Linked DNA regions of Homo sapiens: region 2 is linked to region 1. The links come from fine-mapping of genetic effects on gene expression. A gene starts in region 1. The other region holds a variant in brackets. All regions are shown on one strand. Distances are from middle to middle.

Region 1 (10,355 bases):
ATGAGGATAAATGTATACACACACTATTATCCAAGCCTCCTTCTCCTGCCCCTTAATTATTTCTGACCTCATTAGCTCCCCCTTCCTAGTAGAGGGTGGATATGGCAGCAGTGTTTGTGTGAATATCATTCCTTTATTCAAAAACAGGTTGGAATCTGCTATGCACTTGTTAACTGTATTAGGCCTGGGGGATTCAACAGTACAAAAGACAGAGTCTTTGACCTTACAGAGAAAACAGTTGAGTTTGGGGAGTAGGTAGTGAGGACCAGGAAGCAAGACAGGGTTTATAAGTTGGCAGAGGTGGGACCTACCCATAAGGTAGAATTTCACAAAAACACAGGAAGGCCCTGTGCCTTCTTTTGATGTTTCATTTTTGAAATACAATTTTTTGTTAATATCCATGATTATTTTAGAAATTAATTTCCTGGGGGAAAACATGAGTACAAGCAACACAATAAAAGTTAAATTTGGGCTGGGCACAGTGGCTCATGCCTGTAATCCCAGTACTTTGGGAGGCCAAGGTGGGTGAATCACGAGGTCAGGAGTTCAAGACCAGCCTGGCCAGCATGGTGAAACCCCGTCTCTACTAAAAATACAAAAATTAGCCAGCCAGGCATGGTGGCACGGGCCTGTAATCCCAGCTACGCGGGAGGCTGAGGCAAGAGGATTGCTTGAACCGGGAGGCAGAGGTTGCAGTGAGCCGAGATCATGCTACTGCACTCCAGCTTGGGTGACAGGGCGAGACTCTGTCTCAAAAAAAAAAAAGTTAAATTTGGCCAGGCACAGTGGCTCACACCTGTAATCCCAACACTTTGGGAGGCCAAGGTGTGCCAGATAGCTTGAGCCCCAGAGTTTGAGAGCAGTCTGGGCAACATAGTGAGACCTTCTTGAGACCTTCTTCTCTACAAAAAATTTAAAAATTAGCCAGGAACCTGTAGTTCCAGCTACTCGGGAGGCTGAGGTGGGAGAATCACCTGAGCCCAGGAGGTCAAGGCTGCAGTGAGCTGTGTTCCTGCCACTGTACTCCAGCCTGGGTGACAGTAAGACCTTGTAAAAAAAAAAAAAAAAAGCTAAATTTAATTTAAATTTAACAGTCTTAATATTTCATTTGCAGGTTGGCCGGGCACGGTGGCTCACACCTGTAATCCCAGCACTTTGGGAGGCCGAGGCGGGCGGATCATGAAGTCAGGAGATCGAGACCATCCTAGCTAACACGGTGAAACCCCGTCTCTACTAAAAACACAAAAAATTTGCCGGGCGTGGTGGCGGGAGCCTGTAGTCTCAGTTACTCAGGAGGCTGAGACAGGAGAATGGCATGAACCCGGGAGGCAGAGGTTGCAGTGAGCCGAGATCGCGCCACTGCACTCCAGCCTGGGTGACAGAGCGAGACTCCATCTCAAAAAAAATAAATAAATAAAAATAAAAAAAATAAAAAATAAAAAATTCATTTGCAGGAACATTTTGTTGTCTTTAATGCCTTAACAGCTCCTGAAAAAAATCATGTCAAATGATCAATCCATGTTATTTTTTCATGCACATCAAAGTCACACATTTATTAAATCAGCAATAAATTACATTTCATTGTGAATTCATATTGACTTTATACGTCTGTAGTAGACTTTAAACAGTCCTGCTATCAAAGGCATTAGCCCTTGCCGTTATTTAAAATGTATCCTGGCCAGGCACTGTGGCTCACGCTTGTAATCCCCACATTTTGGGATGTTGGGGTGGGCGGATCACCTGAGGTTAGGCATGCAAGCCCAGCCTGGCCATAATAGTGAAATCCTGTCTCTACTAAAAATACAAAAATTAGCTGGGTGTGGTGGCAGGTGCCTGTAATCCCAGCTACTCGGGAGGATGAGGCAGGAGAATTGCTTGAACCCAAGAGGTGGAAGTTTGCAGTAAGCCGAGATTGTGCCATTGCACTCCCGCCTGGGTGGCAGAGCAAGACTCTGTCTCAAAAATAAATAGATAAAATATATCCTGAGGGAAGAAGGGAAGTAGAAAAAATATATACATATATATCTTGAAGGATAAGGACAAAATATTGACTCCGCTTAAATATCTCAAAAAGAAAATAAATGAAATAAAATTAAGTAAACAAGGAAGCTATTGCATTTAAACTAAATTAGTTGACCATGTTAAAGAAGCCTCAGTGCTGTGTAACAATAGATGCTTATAAAATAATCCACCAGACCACACAGTGCATATGAAAGTGATAACTCTAATTATATGATTGTAACTAAGTTGCAATTTTTTTTTTATACTGAGGTGGGTCACATCTGGACTAACCCTGTCCCTTTTCAGTCATTAAGTCAGTGTACTTGATATATTTTATTAAAATATTCAGTGATATGATTTCGCTGTGTCCCTACCCAAATCTCATCTTGTTCCCATAATCTCCATGTGTCATAGGAGGGAACTGAAGGGAGGTAATTTAATCATGGGGGCGGTTGCCCTCATGCTGGTCTCATGAAAGTGACTTCTCACAAGATCTGATGGTTTTATAAAGGGCTTTTCCCCTTTTTGCTGGGCACTTCTCCTTGCTGTCACCATGTGAAGAAGGATGTGTTTGCTTCCCCTTCTGCCATGATTGTAAGTTTCCTGAGGCCTCCCCAGCCCTGTGGAACTGTGAGTCAATTAAACCTCTTCCCTTTATAAATTACCTAGTCTCAGGTATGTCTTACCCAGTGAACATTAGTCTGTTCTCACCGTGAGAACAGACTAATACATCCAGCTAGTCTTTTAAAAATAATAATGTAACTGACAATTTAAGAATATCTTATATTGGCCAGGCGCTCACACCGGTAATCCCAACACTTTGGGAGGCCAAGGTGGGTGGATCACAAGGTCAGGAATTTGAGACCAGACTGGCCAACATGGTGAAACCCCGTCTCTATTAAAAATACAAAAATTAGTCAGGCATGGTGGCGTGCGCCTGTAGTCCCAGCTAATCAGGAGGCTGAGGCAGAAGAATCGCTTGAACCCGGGAGGCAGAGGTTGCAGTGAGCCGAGATCGCTCCACTGCACTCCAGCCTGGGCGACAAAGCAAGACTCCATCTCAGAAAAAAACAAAGAATATATCTAAAGAGGTTGGTCATGAATATTCTCTGAAACTAGGACCAAAAGTCTCTGTTAAAATATAAATGAGCTGAGAGTGGTGGCACATGCTGGTAGTCCCAGCTACTCTGGAGGTTGAACGGGAGGATAGCTTGAGCCCAGGAGTTTGAGCCCAGCCTGGGCAACATAAAGAGACTCCTTCTCAAATGCATGTGTGTCTGTGTGTGTGTGTGTGTGTGTGTGTGTGTGTTCCTCCTTTGAAACAATTTTCCAGTCTGATTCTTCAAGCTCATATTAACGCAAATGGACTTAATGGTTCCTTTTCCTGGGGACTAAGTTTGGGGAGGAAGGCAGGACTGATTCCTTACCCTTCAAACTAAACCCTGGTCACAGGCTGACCAGTGCCTCCAACCCAGACCAAGCCCTGACCCTAGCCTCAGACTGTGCAATAACCCTGACTAGCATATATGTATATATATACATATGACAAGTCATTCACATTTGAAAATTGGCAGTAGGGCCGGCCACGGTGGCTCACGCCTGTAATCCCAGGATTTTGGGAGGCCAAGGCGGGCAGATCACCTGAGGTCAGGAGTTCGAGACCAGCCTGGCCAACATGGTGCAACCCCGTCTCTACTAAAAATACAAAAATTAGCCGGGTGTAGTGGTGGGTGCCTATAGTCCCAGCTACTCAGGAGGCTGAGACAGGAGAATTGCTTGAACCTGGGAGGCAGAGGTTGCAGTGAGCTGAGATCGTGCCACTGCACTCCAGCCTGGGTGACAGAGCAAGACTCTGTCTCAAAACAAAACAAAAAAGAAAATTGACAGTAGATAATGGAATTACTTTTAAACTATAGATATCTATTACAAAGAACTGTACAAATGTACTGTTTGCTATTTGTAAATTTAAATCTCAACACTTCCACTATGTTTCCAGTCGGATTTCTCTTCTATCCTCTGTATCAGCAATTCACATCTTCCTAATTCTTCTCAGTCCTCTAGATGCCCCTGTTCCCTCCCTCCTCACATATGCCTTTCACAAAAGAAATGGAAGCCTTTCAATGTTTTCTGACTCTTCTTTCTCTTTCTTTCTTTCTTTTTCTTTCTTTCCTTCTTTCCTTCCGTCTTTCCTTCTTTCCTTCTTTCTTTCAGAACCTCGCTCTGTTGCCCAGGCTGGAGTGCAGTGATCTTGGCTCACTGCAACCTCTCCTCCTGAGTTCAAGTGATTCTCTTGCCCCAGCTTCCCCAGTAGCTGGGATTACAGGTGCCCACCACCACACCTGGCTAATTTTGTATTTTTAGTAGGGTTTTATCATGTTGGCCACAGGCTGGTCTCAAACTCCCGACCTCAAGTGATCCACCTGCCTGGGCCTCCCAAAGTGCTGGGATTACAGGCGTGAGCCACCGTGCCCGGCCAGGACTAACACTTTCTAGCTTTCTACCCTTCAGTCCATAAATTTATTCATTTAGACACCCTGTCTTAACATTTTTTTTTTTAGCCTTTACGTTAACAGAGGCTTCTGGTCCTAATTTCATATCATACCCAGGTTCATTTTCATTATCCATTAAATCTGCTATTTTATGTCTTCTATATTCTTATCTTAAAATACTAAAAGAGAGGACAAAGGATACAACCTTGGGGCACATCCCTAGGGTCTTTCCTCTAGAGTGACTTTTATTCAGTAATGAACTCACTTTGTCTGGCTCTTAAAGCTAAGAAATTATACAACTTTTTTTTTCCATACAACTTTTTTTTGGAGTGCAGGGGCACGATCTCGGCTCACTGCAACCTCCGGCTCCCTGGTTCAGGCGATTCTGCTGCCTCAGCCTCCCGAGTAGCTGGGATTACAGGTATGCGCCACCACACCCAGCTAATTTTTGTATTTTTAGTAGAGACGGGGTTTCACCATATTGGCCAGGATGGTCTCGATCTCCTGACCTCGTGATCCGCCCTCCTCTGTCTCCCAAAGTGCTGGGATTACAGGCATGAGCCACCGCGCCCGGCCTCCTATACAATTTTTTAGTATCTCTCCCTGCCAAGTCAGGTTTCTAGATACCCAGAATTTCACTATCTGAGATTCATTCCTTTGGCTGATGGTTCTGTTCTCCTTTCAAACAATTTTCCTGTCTGACTCTTCAAGCGCATATTAATGCAAATGGACTTAACAGTTCCTTTTCCTGTGGACCAAGTTTGGGGAGGGAGGCAGGACTGATCCTTTACCCTTCAACCTGAACCTTGGTCACAGGCTGACCACTGCGTCCAACCCAGACCAAGCCTTGACCCTGACTAGTCAGTGACCCAGGCCACACCCTAACTCCTGGTCACAACCTGAACCCCTGCTTCAGGTGTGAGAACTGATAGACCGGCGTTGGAATGGAAGGAGGGTGAGGCAAGCTGAGTGGGATTCTCGTGTCCCCAGCCCCGCCCGCGGGCCGCCAGCTTCCCAACCTGCACAGGCCCAGCAGGGCCCCTCCAGGTCTAGGTGAGCAGAGCTCCACCTACAGGTAAAACGCGGCAAGGGGCAGAGAAGGAGCCAAGTGGCGACGTGGTCATGCGCAGAAAGATCCGTCCGGCTCTCTGAGCAGAGGGTAGCGTGTGGGGGCGGGATACCGACGCGGCTCGGCTGCCGATTGGTCAGAAGAGGATAGAAAGGGGCGGGAAGCCGGCGCGGCTCGACTCCCGATTGGCCAGAGGCGGCAGAACGGGGTGGGGCCAAACGACGCGCGTTCTGTGGCGCGCGGCCTGGCGGGCGTGCAACGGCCGTTAGAGGAGCTGAGGGAGGGAACCACCGCTCACCGCAGACGTGGTGGCTGCAGTCAGTCTTCCCGAGTGAGGGATTTCGCCGCCCGCTTTCAGGCCCGTGTAAGTTTTCCTCCTTCGGGAGCCTCAGTCCTAGTGGCCGACCTTGCCTCTCCTCCCATAGCTCCGGCGAAGCCTCAGACGCTCGCGACCTGCCACCGTGAGGGGCCGGGGAGAGCGAAGCGCATGCGCCTCGGCTCCGAAGCCAGTGCCCCGGCATACGCCCTCTCGCGTCCCATTCCCCTCGCTTCCCCCGTTGCCTTGCTTTGCCGTCCGTGGTTCACCCCACGGCAGTCACTTTACCTGCGTGCCAGGCCCTGTGCCGATAGCCAGGGACACAGCGAGCGGCGCATTCCTTGCCCTTGCGGAGCGCACAGCCCTGGGAGTCGACGTTAAGCGGGGTAATCCCTCGGCGCGCAGTGAGGGTAGAGTGGAGAAATCTTACAAAGAGCGCAAAACAGAAGGCGCGGATCTAGTCGGAGAGGTCAGGGAGCCCTCCCCGAGGAGGAGAAGTTTGAGCCGAGATTGGAAGGCTGTGTAGAGAATTAAGGTTGTGGGACGGAAAGCACTTGGCGGGGCCTTACCCCGGTACTTCTCGGCCGGGGCGATTTTGCTTCCCTGGGGACATTGGTCGATGTCTGGAAACACTTTTGATAGTCACAGCTCCAGGGCTTGCTACTGGCATCTAGTGCGAAGAAGCCAGGGATGCTGTTACACAGCCTACTGTGTGTAGGACGCCCCCAACAACAAAGAAAAATCCCCCAAAATGTCAGTAGGGCGGAAGGTGAGGAAGCTTCCTTCAGCGAGAAGGAGCTGGTGCTTTGGTTGAACTGAAAGTTAGTGTGTTCAGGTTTATTTGTTCAACAGTATATTCAACGCTTACTTCACCTCAGTTAATGAGAGCGATCCTTTACACCAGTACATTCCCAACACGTGGCTCAGAGCCAGGCGCATAGTAGGCACGCAGTAAATTTCGGTTGATGAATTGAACACTGGGATAAGTAGGGGGCGGTGGTGATACAAGGACGATGAAGCTAGCCAGGCCTCATTTATTTGCCCTCAAACCTTGTCTGCTTTATAGTGATCTGGTGGTTTTGTATGTCTCACGACTTTTCTTTGTAAAGGCAACTTCTTGTCAAGGATTTGGCTTCTCTTTCACAAGGTTTAATGAATGATCAAGGCGGTGAAAATAGTGTAATGGTGTGAGATCCTTCGTGTGTCTGTGTCAGCTGTCTGTGTATCCCTTCAAATCCTCTCTTGTCTTGATGTGGTTCTCTTAACAGCTGCCAAGCATGATGTTCCACACTTAGATTGTAATTCTTTTTTTTTTTTTTTTTTTTGTGAGACGGAGTTTTGCTCTTGTTGCCCAGGCTGGAGTGCCGTGGCGCGATGTCGGCTCACCGCAACCTCCGCCTCCCAGGTTCAAGCGATTCTCCTGCCTCAGCCTCCCGAGTAGCTGGGATTACAGGCATGCGCCACCATGCACGGATAATTTTGTATTTTTAGTAGAGACGGCGTTTCTCCATGTTGGTCAGGCTGGTCTCAAACTCCCGACCTCAGGTGATCCGCCCGCCTCGGCCTCCCAAAATGCTGGGATTACAGGCGTGAGCCACCACGCCCGGCCACACTTAGATTGTAATTCTTATAGGGGAAAAATACTTACGGCAGTCAAAATCTAATTCTTGGGTAGCAACTTGAGAAATAAAGCCTAGGTGATGACCAAGGACAAAGTGAAGAAATTTTATGAGCTTTTACTGCTCATATAATTGAGGCTTGCAGCTCTAGCTGTCTGAGGCAGAAACTCCAACTTGTGGTGCCATGCTTGATCTCTTTTTTTGTGTTTTGTCACATGTAGAATGCTGACTAGACTACTGTAGCGTTAGAGTACAGTCCTGGCTTTGAAGCCTCTTCCTAGCCATATGACCTTCACTACTGTAAACCTTTATTTTCTCATCCATAAAATGAGGATAATAGTAACTGCCTCATAGGGTTGATGTGAACATGAAACATGAGACATGATACTTAAAAAGTGTTGAGCACAGTGTTTGATAGGTAGTAAGTGCAGAATGCATGTTAAATTTGTTGAATGAGTGACTGTTTCTGTAGTTTAAAGGGCTTTGAAGATGGAAACCAATCCTGTTGGGTGCTTTTTTTTTTTTTCCCCTCTGTCTGCCTCCATTCACTCCCTTTCTAAGCTTTATAACTGGTGTGTTACTTCTTGTACATTCACTTCTCTCATTTTTATCCCAGGAAATTTCTGTCTCCTTCAGTTGTCCCAAAAATTTCCACCAGTAGCTCATCTAATTCTTAAGTCAAGAATGATTTATTTTGTATTGTTTTACTCCTTACGGGGTTTCTTTCTTTCTGTTTTTCTTTTTTGAGATATTTGTTGTCAATGAGGGTCAGACTCTGAAATATTTGAAGGGATTTATTCTGAGCCAAATATGGGTGACCAGTGGCCCCTGACACAGCCCTCAGGTGATCCTGATAACGTGTGCCCTGGTTTTAAACATTTTAGGTAGACATGAGACATCAGTCAAATACATGTAAGATTTACATTGATCTGGAAGGGTAAGACAACTCTTAGTGGGTGGGGGCTTCCAGGTCATAGGTAGATTTCAAAATTTTCTGATTGGCAGTTGGTTGAAAGTTGTTATCAATAGAAAGGAATGTCTGGGTTAAGGTATCCTGGGGATCAACATTTTATTGTACAGATGAAGCCTCCAAATAGTAGGCTTTAGAGAGAATAGATTATAAATGTTTCTTACAGACATCTGTGTTAATGTTAATGCTTTTCCTAAATTCCAGAAGGGAGGAGGGTATAATGAGGGGTGTAGGACTCCACCACCACTACCACCATCATGGCCTTAACAGGTTTTTCAGCTTAACTTTGGAATGCCATTGGCCAAGGGGAGGGATCCATTCAGGTGGTTGGGGATGTCTTAGAATTTTTTTTTTGGCTTATATCACATAACATAAAATTTAATTTTATGTGTGTGCAATTCAGAGGTTTTTAATATATTGGCAAGGTTGTGCAGTCAGTCACCACTATCTAATCTCAGAACATTTTGATCACCCTGAAAAGAAACCCGGTATCCATTAGCAGTCCCTTCCTATTCTCCTACCCTCCCTCCTCTCAGTCCTTTGCAATCACTAATCTGTGTCTCTATGGATTTGCCTATTCTGACATTTCATATAAATAGGATCAAGCCTTTTGTTTGGCTTCTTTGACTTTGCATGTCTTCAGTGTTCATCCATGTTGTCACATGTATCAGTACTTCCTTTTATTGCTGAATAATACTCTGTTTTTTGGATATACCACATTTTATGTATCCATTCATTAGCTCATGGACGTTTGTGTTGTTTCCACTTTTTGGCTATTGTAAATAATGCTGCTACGAACATTCTTATTGAAGCTTTTGTGTAAACCTGTGTTTTCATTTCTCTTGGGTGTATACTTCAGTGTGGAATTGCTGAGTCATAGGGTAACTCGGAGTTCTCCTTCTGTCACCGTATTTTCAACTTGTCTGAATTTAGAAACACCTTAGAATCCAGTGCGCCTACCATTTTGTTATCCTTTAAAGAAAGGAGTGAAGAAAAGGATTTTGATATTGACAAGAAAGGAAATCACTAGTAAGGAGGTAATCTAATCATTCTATGTCATCATTTAACTCACTGAATCATACTTGCCATAAACTAAAGCTTTTATTACTGAACAAAGCTTCCCTCACCCAGTATGTGAAGAACTGGAATTGTGGAGGATGATACCCTTTCTATTGTAGATGCAGTGAATTAATAAGGGTTTGGGTTGTTATGTACTTTAGTGACCTCTATAGTATTCTCTTAGTAACAAGAGAATACTATAGAGGTCACTAAAGTACATTAGAGAAATAGTACCATATAGTCTTTTTTCTCCAGAGTGATAGAATTATGTTCTGTGAATTGTCCCAAACTCTTTTTTTTTTTTTTTTGAGACGGAGTCTTGCTCTGTCGCCCAGGCTGGAGTGCAATGGCGCGATCTTGGCTCACTGCAGCCTCCGCCTCCATGGTCCAAGCGATTCTCCTGCCTCAGCCTCCCAAGTAGCTGGGATTACAGGCGCCTGCCACCATGCCTGGCTAATTTTTGTATTTTTAGTAGAGACGGGGTTTCACCATGTTGGCTGGTCTCGAACTCCTGACCTCAGGTGATCCGCCTGCCTCGGCCTCCCAAAGTGCTGGGATTACAGGCGTGAGCCACTGAGCCCGGCCGAATTGTCCCAAACTCTTTTGGGGCTTTTATAAATTTAGAGTTTCTGAGTTGATACTCCTTGATCTTCCATGGGCTGTACAGTGCTACTTTTGTTGATGTAAATTGCCAAGTAATAACAGCACTTAGTATGTGTCAGGAACTGTTGTAAGTTAATTATAAGTGAATTAACATGAATTAGGTTGTGTTGTTATCCTCATTTTTATATGAAGAAAATGAGGAACAGAGATACTAAGAAATTTGCCCAAG
Region 2 (10,355 bases), 20 kb after region 1:
TGCATTTTTTAAAAGTTGTAATAGTCTTCTCGAGATAGGGGTCAAAGATATTGGTCTAGAAGTTTTTTTTACTTCTTCTTATTTTTTCGAGACAGAGTCGCTCTGTCGCCCAGGCTGGAGTGCAGTGGCCCAATCTCGGCTCACTGTAACCTCCACCTCCTGGGTTCAAGCGATTCTCCTCTTTCAGCCTCCCGAGTAACTGGGATTACAGGCGTGTACCACCATGCCTGGCTAATTTTTGTATTTTTAGTAGAGATGGGGTTTCACCATGTTGGCCAGTCTGGGTCTTGAACTCTTTTTTTTTTTTTTTTTTTTTTGAGACCGAGTCTCGCTCTGTTGCCCAGGCTGGAGTGCAGTGGGGCAATCTCGGCTCACTGCAAGCTCCGCCTTCCGGGTTAATGCCATTCTCCTGCCTCAGCCTCCCAAGTAGCTGGTACTACAGGCACCCGCCACTACGCCCGGCTAATTTTTTGTATTTTTAGTAGAGACGGGGTTTCACCGTGTTAGCCAGAATGGTCTCGATCTCCTGACCTCACGATCTGCCCACCTCGGCTTCTCAAAGTGCTGGGATTACAGGCGTGAGCCACCACGCCCAGGCCTAGACATTTTTTAAACTGCTATGTTTGTTACATACCATGATCCTAATCTTAACTCTTTTTGTGTGTTTGTTTTGAGACGGAGTCTCACTCTGTCACCCAGGCTGGAGTGCAGTGGCATGATCTTGGCTCACTGCAACCTCCGCCTCCCGGGTTCAAGCGATTCTTCTGCCTCAGCCTTCTGAGTAGTTGGGATTACAGGCGTGTGCCACCACACCCAGCTAATTTTTGTATTTTTAGTAAAGACGGGGTTTCACCTTGTTGGCCAGACTGGTCTCGAAGTCCTGACCTCAGCTGATCCACTCACCTTGGCCTCTCAAAGTGTTGGGATTATAGGCGTGAGCCACTGCTCCTGGCCTCTAATCTTAACTCTTACACATTTTGTTCATGAATCTAGCTTGCGGTCTAGTTGACAAGAACCCCTGTGACTGGTATACAGTATAGTTCATTGTTGCATCTTTAAATTTAATAGGCATGCTTTTGATTCCACCCTTCTTCACTAAGGTGTTTTACCTTGAAAGATTCTCGAGGGACAGAGTAGAGGTGGGTACTGAAGAGTTCAGAATGCTTTCAGCTCTTTGCAAAAGACTGAAATAGTCACTGGTGTAATTCAGGCTACTGAATCACTTCAGGTGTAGACTGAAGTGACTGAGATTTGGTAATAGCTGAATCTACCCTTACTGTGAAAGGAAGTTTGCTCAAAAATGAGTTGTTTTTTAGGGTGGGGAGGGGTCATAAAATGTGGTTAAGTAGGGGAGAGATTTAGAACTATATTCTTAAAATGGCAAAACCCCAAAGTTTTTGGGAACTGTAGATTTCTGTAAATAAAAATCACATATCCCATGCATTGTATTTTTTAAAGAGATGGATCTCACTGTGTTGCCTACACTGGAGTGCAATGACTGTTCACACAGGTACCATCATAGTGTACTATAGCCATGAACTCGGTGGGGCTCAAGTAATCCTCCTGAGTTAGACTACTGAGTAGCTGGGCCTACAGAGATGCACCACCTGCCTGGTTCCCATACACTAAATTTTGAATGCCTTTGAAAATTGTAGAAGATAGAGGTCCCTTTGAAAATGAGTGTTGCTATTTCATTTCAAAATATTCTAAACCACAGACCAGACTTACGGTGTAACTCAGAGGTCCCCAACTCCTGGCCCGTGGACCAGTACCAGTCCATGGCATATTAGGAACCAGGCCACACAGCTGGAGGTGAGCAGCAGGCGAGCAAGCATTACTGCCTGAGCTTGCGCCTTCTGTCAGATCAGTGGTGACATTAGATTCTCATAGGAGCACGAACCCTATTGTGAACTGTGCATGTGAGGGATCTAGGTTGCTCAGTCCTTACGAGAATCTAATGCCTGATGATCTGAGGTGGAACAGTTTCATCCTGAAACCATCCCCCCAACCATCGTCTGTGGAAAAATTGTGTTCCACAAAACGATTCCCTGGTAACAAAAAGGTTGGGAACCGCTGGTGTAACTTTACATTTCATAGCACAGTTAGTCTGAATCAGGCAGTTTACTTAATATAAATAGATAAACCCAATAGATAAGTTAAAAATGTGGACAAAGACCTCACCTTAATTTTCTAATATGTCCATTTATCATCTATAAAAAATTAGAAAAGCCATATTCTTCTGGGTCAGTTGGTACTTTTCTTCTTGGCTTTGGTTTTGGCATTATTTTGGGGTTATCTTAGTGTATTTTCTGTTACTGTAAGAGAATACCTGAGACAGTGTAACTTATACAGAAAAGATGTTTATTTTGCCCAGGGTTCTGGAGAGTGAGAAGTCCAAAGGCATAGTGGCAGCATCTGGCGAAGGCTTTTGTGCTGTATCATAACATGGTGGAAAAGCAGAGACCACTAGAGTGAGCCAAGCTTGCCTTTTTTTTTTCTTTTTTCTTTTTTTTTTTTTTTTTTTTTTTTTTGAGACAGAGTCTTATTTCTGTCACTCAGGCTGGAGTGCAGTGGTGGGATCTTGGCTCACTGCAGCTTCCGCCTCCCATGTTCAAGTGATTTCTCCTGCCTCAGCCTCCCGAGTAGCTGGGATTACAGGCACCCGCCATCATGCCCAGCTAATTTTTGTATTTTTAGTAGAGATGGGGTTTCACCATGTTAGCCAGGCTGGCCTTGAACTCCTGACCTCAAATGATCCGCTTGCCTCTGCCTCCCAAAGTGCTAGGATTACAGGCATAAACCACCGTGCCCAACCCAAGCTTGGTTTTTTTTTTTTTTTTTGAGGTGGAGTTTAGCTCTTGTTGCCCAGGCTGGAGTGCAATGGTGCAATCTCGGCTCACTGCAACGTCTGCCTCCCGGTTTCAGGCGATTCTCCTGCCTCAGCCTCCTGAGAAGCTGGGACTACAGGCATGCGTCACCACGCCCAGCTAATCTTGTATTTTTAGTGGAGACAGGGTTTCTCCACGTTGATCAGGCTGGTCTCAAACTCCGGACCTCAGGTGATCCGCCCACCTCAGCCTCCCAAAGTGCTGGGATTACAGGCATGAGCCACCATGCCCGGCCCCAAGCTTGCTTTTATAACAACCCACTGCTTTGAGAACTAACTCACTTCTGCTAATCTATTATGAGGCTTCTACCCTCATGACCCAGTCACCTCTTAGAGGCCCCCACCTCTTAATACTGTTACATTGGCAATTAAGTTTCCAACACATGAACTTTTGGGGGACAGACACTTTCAAACCACAGCAGGGGGTGTGGGCTCAAAACTGAATTTGGTGAATCTAGAGAGAGTGGTGCTATGGATGGAGACTGGAAGGAGGTATTGCAAAGTTCATGGTAGCAACCCCTCATGTGCTACAACCTCACAGTCTTCTGTTTTGTAATTACACCGTGGGAGCAGTGACCCTTGGTAAGAACTGATAACTATGGTGCTGTTATGGAGGATTTAAAACATATTGCTTATGGTTAAGCACGGTGGCTCATCCCTGTAATCCCAGCACTTTGGGAGGCCGAGACAGGTGAATCACTTGAGGTTAGGAATTCAAGACCAGCCTGGCCAACATGGTGAAACCCCGTCTACTAAAAATACAAAAATTAGCCAGGCATGGTGGCGGGCTCCTGTAATCCCAGCTACTCGAGAGGCTGAGGCAGAAGAGTCGCTTGAACCCAGGAGGCAGAGGTTGCGGTGAGCCAAGATCGTGCCACTGCACTCCAGCCTGGACAACAGAGTGAGTGAGACCCCATCTCAAAAAAGAAAAAATTGGGCCGGGGGCAGTGGCTCACACCTGTAATCCCAGCACTTTGGGAGGCCGAGGCGGGCGGATCACCTGAGGTTGGGAGTTCAAGACCAGCCTGACCAGCATGGAGAAGCCCTGTCTCTACTAAAAATACAAAATTAGCCGGGCGTGGTGGAGCATGCCTTTAATCCCAGCTACTTGGGAGGCTGAGGCAGGAGAATCGCTTGAACCCAGGAGGAGGAGGTTGTGGTGAGCCAAGATCGCGCCATTGCACTCCAGCCTGGGCAACAAGAGTGAAATTCCGGCTCCAAAAAATAAAACAAAAAATTGTATTGCTTACTAGTCTTTGAAGTCTTTATCACTAGCAGTCTGCCTTAACCTTGTGTACTAGTCCTATATTTAAGTTGTGAGACATCAGAAACTGGGTCCTTTAACTGAGAAATTTCTTTCTTGGTCCTGAGAGACTAATGCATGTTATCAGAACTTATTCAGGTTTTTGTTTTGTTACGTGTGTGTGTGTTTTTTTAGTGTGGCCTTTTATATATCCCCAAGATCATCTTCAGTATAGCAAATTAGATACTATGCATGTAATATAAGGCTTGCACGTCTTTTTTTAAAGTATTTATTCCTCCTGTCTAACCGAAATGTTTTACCCTTTGATCAGCATCTCTCGATTCCCCCTGCTCCCAGCTTCTGGTAACCACAATTATTCTCTCTGTTTCTATGTGTCGAGGTTTTTTTTAGCTTCCACATATAAGTAAGAACGTGCAGTATTTGTCATTTTGTGCCTGGCTTATTTCTCTTAGTGTCCTCCAGTTTCATCCATGTTGTTGCAAGTGACACAATTGACATCTTTTATAAGGCTGGTATTCCGTTGTGTAATATACTGCATTTTCCTTATCTGTTCGTCTGTTGATTCTATAACTTGGCTATTGTGAATAATTACTCAGTAAACATGGGATTGTAGATATCTCTTGGACATACATATTTCATATCGTTTGGATATATACCCAGAAGTGGATTGCTGGATCATATGGTAACTATTTTTAGTTTTTTGAGGAGCTACATACTCCATTGTTTTCCACAGTGGCTGTGTTACATTCCCCCCAACTGTGTACTAGAGTTCCCTTTTCTCTGCATCCTCTCCAAACTTGTTATCTTTCATCTTTTTTTTTTTTTTTTTGAGATGGAGTCTCACTCTGTCGCCCAGGCTGGAGTGCAGTAGTGCGATCCTGGCTCATTGCAACCTCCACCTCCTGGGTTCAAGCGATCCTCCTGCCTCAGCCTCCCGAATAGCTGGGACTACAGGCGCGTGCCACCATACCTGGCTAATATTTTGTATTTTTAGTAGAGACAGGGTTTCACCGTGTTAGCCAGGATGGTTTCGATCTCCTGACCTCATGATCCCCCCTCCTCAGCCTCCCAAAGTGCTGGGGATTACAGGCATGAGCCACTGCGCCCGGCCTCATCTTTTTCATCATAGCCATTCTGACAGGTGTGAGGTGGCTTGCCCATATTTTTAAAGAGTTGCTTAAGGCCGGGCATGGTGGCTCACACCTGTAATCCTAGCACTTTGGGAGGCTGAGGCAGGTGGATCACTTGAGCCCATGAGTTCGAGACCAGTCTGGGCAACATGGCGAAACCCCATCTCTCCTAAAAATACAAAAACTGAGGTGGGAAGATCACCTGAGCCTGGGGAGGTCGAGGCTGCAGTGAACTGTGATCACGCCACTGTGCTCCAGCCTGGGTGACAGAGTGAGACCCCATTTCAAAAAAAAAAGTTGTTTAATGAGAAGGTCGTAGCTGATCTATACTTACATAATTCTGGGAACAATTATAGTATTTGTTGTTGTTATCTGAGTGTTCTCTGTGTTGGTTGCTGGGGAGAAAAAGAAACAAGTTGGTAGTCGCTCTTCTCCGTGGTAGATATGCTTGATTTGGGAACGAGTACTGAATATAGTTGAAAAGAGAAGAAATTGGTATTCCTTATTTCCTTATTCAGTTTTCTGCCTGCTGAAAGCAATAAGTATGTTACCTCACATTCCTCCCTTATTGTTTGCTTGCAGTAGTCCCCCTCAGAGTAGTACTTGAAAGTTGGAAATAGGTAGAAATGTGAACCTTGTATAGTAGGGCTAATCAAGGGTTGTCTCCCAAGACCAGGCAGGAGCCAAAGGAAACACAAATTCAGTCTGAAGGAAAAGT[T/TAA]AAAAAAAAAAAAACACAGTTGGGTACACACAAGGGGGCAAGTGAAAGGCAAAATATAAAATAGAGGATTTCAGTGTGTACCCAATTGAGAGTGCTCACTGTGCTAGAGTGAAACCTGAGAGTTACTAAGAATAACTTCACATATCCAGGCAGTCAGGTTTGGGGTATGGGAGAGAGAACAGAATCCTGCCTCAGATGCCATACTCCCTGTCCTGCATACTGAGCAAGACTGTCTAGTTCGCTTCATTCTTCAGATAGTTTGGACTCGTTGCTCACCTTCCTGGGGGAGCTTTTGGAGGTCGCAGAAGATTCTGGTGACTCTTGGAAAGGATATTTTTATTAGATTTGATTATAGCTGAGAGTTGTCCAGCTTCCAGAAGAGTAGGACCTAACTCATTTTCCTTAAGTAAGTAATTTGTTTTAAAGTTTAAATTTTTTAAAAAACTTTTTAAAAGTTTTTCAGCTTTGTCTGTTGACTGACAAGATTTTTTTTATTCCAGTACAAAGGACTAAGTTAAAAGTGAAGTCATTATTGCCTTTTGTTAGTTTACCTTGTGAATGGCATTTGAGATCCTGGAACATACATCTCCCAGTTTGGTTGCCGTTTCTTTCTGCCTGATACTTTTGATGATGGTGCTCTCTCTGCTTGGTCTCAGGACAGGCCGAGAGCTTCTGGCATAGCATTCAAACTCAAGAAAGCTTGCTACTTCAATTTTTACTTATGGAAGACTATTCTCTCCCCAGATTTTTGCAGCTCAAGTGGCAGTCCTCCTTTCCAGCCCATCAAAAGCCACGTAACCATTCCAACAGCCCATGTGATGCCTTCTACTTTAGGGACCTCTCCTGCCAAGCCAAATTCTACACCTGTTGGACCCTCTTCCTCTAAACTCCCTTTGTCAGGGTTGGCTGAAAGTGTGGGAATGACAAGAAATGGAGACCTCGGTGCAATGAAACATTCTCCAGGCCTATCTAGAGATCTCATGTATTTCTCTGGTGCTACTGGAGAAAATGGAATTGAGCAGTCCTGGTTTCCAGCAGTGGGCCATGAAAGACAAGAAGAGGCGAGGAAGTTTGATATTCCTAGCATGGAATCTACCCTCAATCAGTCGGCAATGATGGAGACACTTTATTCAGATCCTCACCACCGAGTCCGCTTCCACAACCCAAGAACCAGCACAAGTAAGGAGTTGTACAGAGTGTTGCCTGAGGCCAAGAAGGCACCGGGCAGCGGGGCAGTGTTTGAGCGGAATGGACCACATTCTAATAGCAGTGGGGTCCTCCCTTTGGGACTCCAGCCTGCTCCCGGGCTCTCCAAGCCTCTGCCCTCTCAGGTGTGGCAGCCGAGTCCTGACACTTGGCATCCCCGAGAGCAATCTTGTGAACTCAGCACTTGTCGGCAGCAGCTGGAATTGATTCGTTTACAGATGGAGCAAATGCAGGTAGAGGTCTATCTTTCCTTGGATTTTCTAGGTTCTGTACAGTTCTTAGAATTGTAATAGCTTTTGTCCTTTGAATTTTGGCTTAAAGAAAATAGCTGTAAAAAGAAGGAAGATGTTTGTAGACAGGAAATACAGGCTTGTGAGCTGTTGGCCATTGAATCTGTTTGGTAGTCAAATTAAGCACCAGATAGGGTCTCCAAAATAGCAAAAGGTTACAAAGGAAAACCTAAAAACGTATTTATACGTCACTAGGCTAAGTACTTTCACATACAGCATTTTATTTAATCTTCATAGTGTACTAACGAGGTAGATGTAGAAACTTACCAGGTTCTTAGACTACATAATCTGTACGGGGTCATAGAGTTGGTAATTGGCAGAGCTGGGGTTTAAAAACCATCTTTGAGGCCAGGTGGCTCACGCCTATAATCCCAGCATTTTGGGAGGCCGAGGCGGGCAGGAGTTCGAGACCAGCCTGGCCAGCAGAGTGAAACCCTGCCTCTACTAAAAATATAAAAATTAGCCAGGTGTGGTGGCATGCGCCTGTAGTCCCAACTACTCAGGAGGCTGTGGCAGGAGAATTGCTTGAACCTGGGAGGCGGAGGTTGCAGTGAGCCGAGACTGCGCCATTGCACTCCAGTCTGGATGACAGAGCGAGGCTCTGTCTCAAAAAATAAATAAATAAATGTGAAAACCTTCTTTGAGCCCCTGTGTTCTCTCTACCACTTTTGTATTTTCTTTTTTTTTTTTTTTTGAGATGGAGTCTTGCTCTGTTGCCCAGGCTGGAGTGCAGTGGCGTGTTCTCGGCTCACTGCAACCTCTACCTCCCAAGGTCAAGTGATTCTCCTGCCTTAACCTCCCGAGTAGCTGGGACTACAGGTGCGTGCCAACACGCCCAGCTCTTTTTTGTATTATTAGTAGAAACAGGGTTTCACCATGCTGGCCCGCCTAGTCTCGAACTCCTGACCTTGTGATCCGCCCGCCTCAGCCTCCGAAAGTGCTGGGATTACAGGGGTGAGTTACTGTGCCTGCCTGTATTTTCCTTTTTTTGTTTTGTTTTGTTTTGGTGTGTGTGTGTGTGTGTGTGTGTGTGTTTTGGAGACAGAGTCTTGCTCTGTCGCCCAGTGGCATGATCTTGGCTCACTGCAACCTCCACCTCTCAGGTTCAAGCAATTTTCCTGCCTCAGCCTCCTGAGTAGCTAGGACCACAGGCGCATGCCACCACGCCTGGCTAATTTTTTGTATTTTTTATTAGAGACGGGTTTTCACCCTGTTGCCCATGCTGGTTTAGAACTCCTGAGCTTGGGCAATCTGCCCACCTTGGCCTTCCAAAGTGCTGGGATTACAGGCGTGAGCCACCGCACCCAGCATATTTTCTTTTAAAAAATCCTTGTGCTGCTGAAGAGTGGGAAGGAAGGGAGCAGACATATTCCCCTTCCTTGGTTGGTGAGGACATCCTAGCTCCTGGTTTGCCTCTGTTGCTAGATAATAAAAGATAACTGACCTTTTCTTAGAAACTAGAGCCTTTTTGAACAGGGAGTGTTCAGTTGGCAGAAGCCTTCCTGGCAGGTTCTTTCCAGTCATGCCTCAGAGCTAAAATTATTTCATAAACATTGGGCCTCATCAGGCTGAGCCAAGTTGGGCTTTGACTACAGACCCAGCTGATTACTGCTCAGGTGTTTTCAGGCGTGTATGGGTCAAGATCAAGCTCATCTGGGCCTACTTGCCTTTCAGCTTCAGAATGGAGCCATCTGCCACCATCCTGCTGCTTTTGGTCCTTCACTGCCCATCTTAGAGCCAGCACAGTGGATCAGCATCTTGAACAGTAATGAACACCTTCTGAAGGAAAAAGAGCTTCTCATTGACAAGTAAGAGGGCAAGGGGTACCACAGAGCCAGACTACTCTCCCAGGCCCCATTGAAGACACCTAATGGAGTCTTCCCAAGGGCAAAGCATTCCTCCTCTGTTTAGGTCCATGTCTTGCCTCATGGTGGAGGTAGTTTGATAAGCAGCCTAGTCGTGTATATATAACTAATATAATAGACCAGTTATGTATTTCTTTAGGGGCTCTAGGGAGTGCCTAAGGGGGTAGCCAGTTCATTGCTTCTGATCTTTTCCTCATTTCCCCAGTTATCTTTCTCATTTGTTCTTCTTCCTTCAGAAAATAGTGATATCCAGAATCTAAGATCTTGCTTACGTAATAGGGATTGTACTTAGTAGGGGCTCATATTGTGAGGGGTTAGCATCAGGACCCTGACCTGATTCTACCGGCTTGTGCAGGCAGAGGAAACACATCTCTCAGCTGGAGCAGAAAGTGCGAGAGAGCGAACTGCAAGTCCACAGTGCCCTCTTGGGCCGCCCTGCCCCCTTTGGTGATGTCTGCTTGCTGAGGCTACAGGTAAGTATTGGCCATCAGGATGGCATTCTGTTTGTCATAACTCGGTGTCTTCCCTATGCTTGACACCATTAGGTATCCAGGAGATAGAAAAGAGCTCAAGTGATGTAAGTGTCCCTGCCCTCAAAGAGGGCATACTAATTATAAAGCACCCTTTATCATGCCCTTGTGGGAGCAGAAAAGGCTAAGAACCAGGTGAAAGTCCAGATGCCTGGGTGTGAAGACATACTTGGAAGAAAGGTAGATAGTAAGGTCCTAGAGTTGGGTGATGTTATGAGAAGTCTTAATTTTCTAGCCCTAGCCAAAGGAGAGAGAGGCAAAGGTAATGCAGGATTTAGAGCTATTCTCTCTCTTTTTTTTTTTTTCCCCTGCTCTGTCACCCAGGCTGGAGTGCAGTGGCACAATCTCGGCTCACTGCAACCTCCGCCTCCCGGGTTCAAGCAATTCTCCTGCCTCAGCCTCCCAAGTAGCTAGGATTACAGGTGCCTGCCACCATGCCTGGCTAATTTTTATATTTTTAGTAGA

The links.
Region 2: its variant is fine-mapped to the expression of CEP85 in whole blood (INTERVAL, PIP above 0.99).

The regions. Positions count from the first base shown.
Region 1 is chr1:26,228,388-26,238,742 of GRCh38, forward strand. It overlaps CEP85 (centrosomal protein 85), which reads left to right and starts at 5,813. Exons shown (of 14, transcript NM_001319944.2): 1 at 5,813-5,923. It also overlaps the pseudogene ZPLD2P. RefSeq lists a silencer at 1,230-1,398 and enhancers at 6,012-6,161, 6,482-6,541, 6,632-6,681.
Region 2 is chr1:26,248,428-26,258,782 of GRCh38, forward strand. It overlaps CEP85 (centrosomal protein 85), which reads left to right. Exons shown (of 14, transcript NM_001319944.2): 4 at 6,744-7,438; 5 at 9,170-9,303; 6 at 9,716-9,833. Among named protein-coding and RNA genes, the nearest start is that of CEP85, 19 kb to the left of the region's middle. RefSeq lists a silencer at 8,897-9,097. The variant T/TAA (reference allele first, on the strand shown) is at 6,000.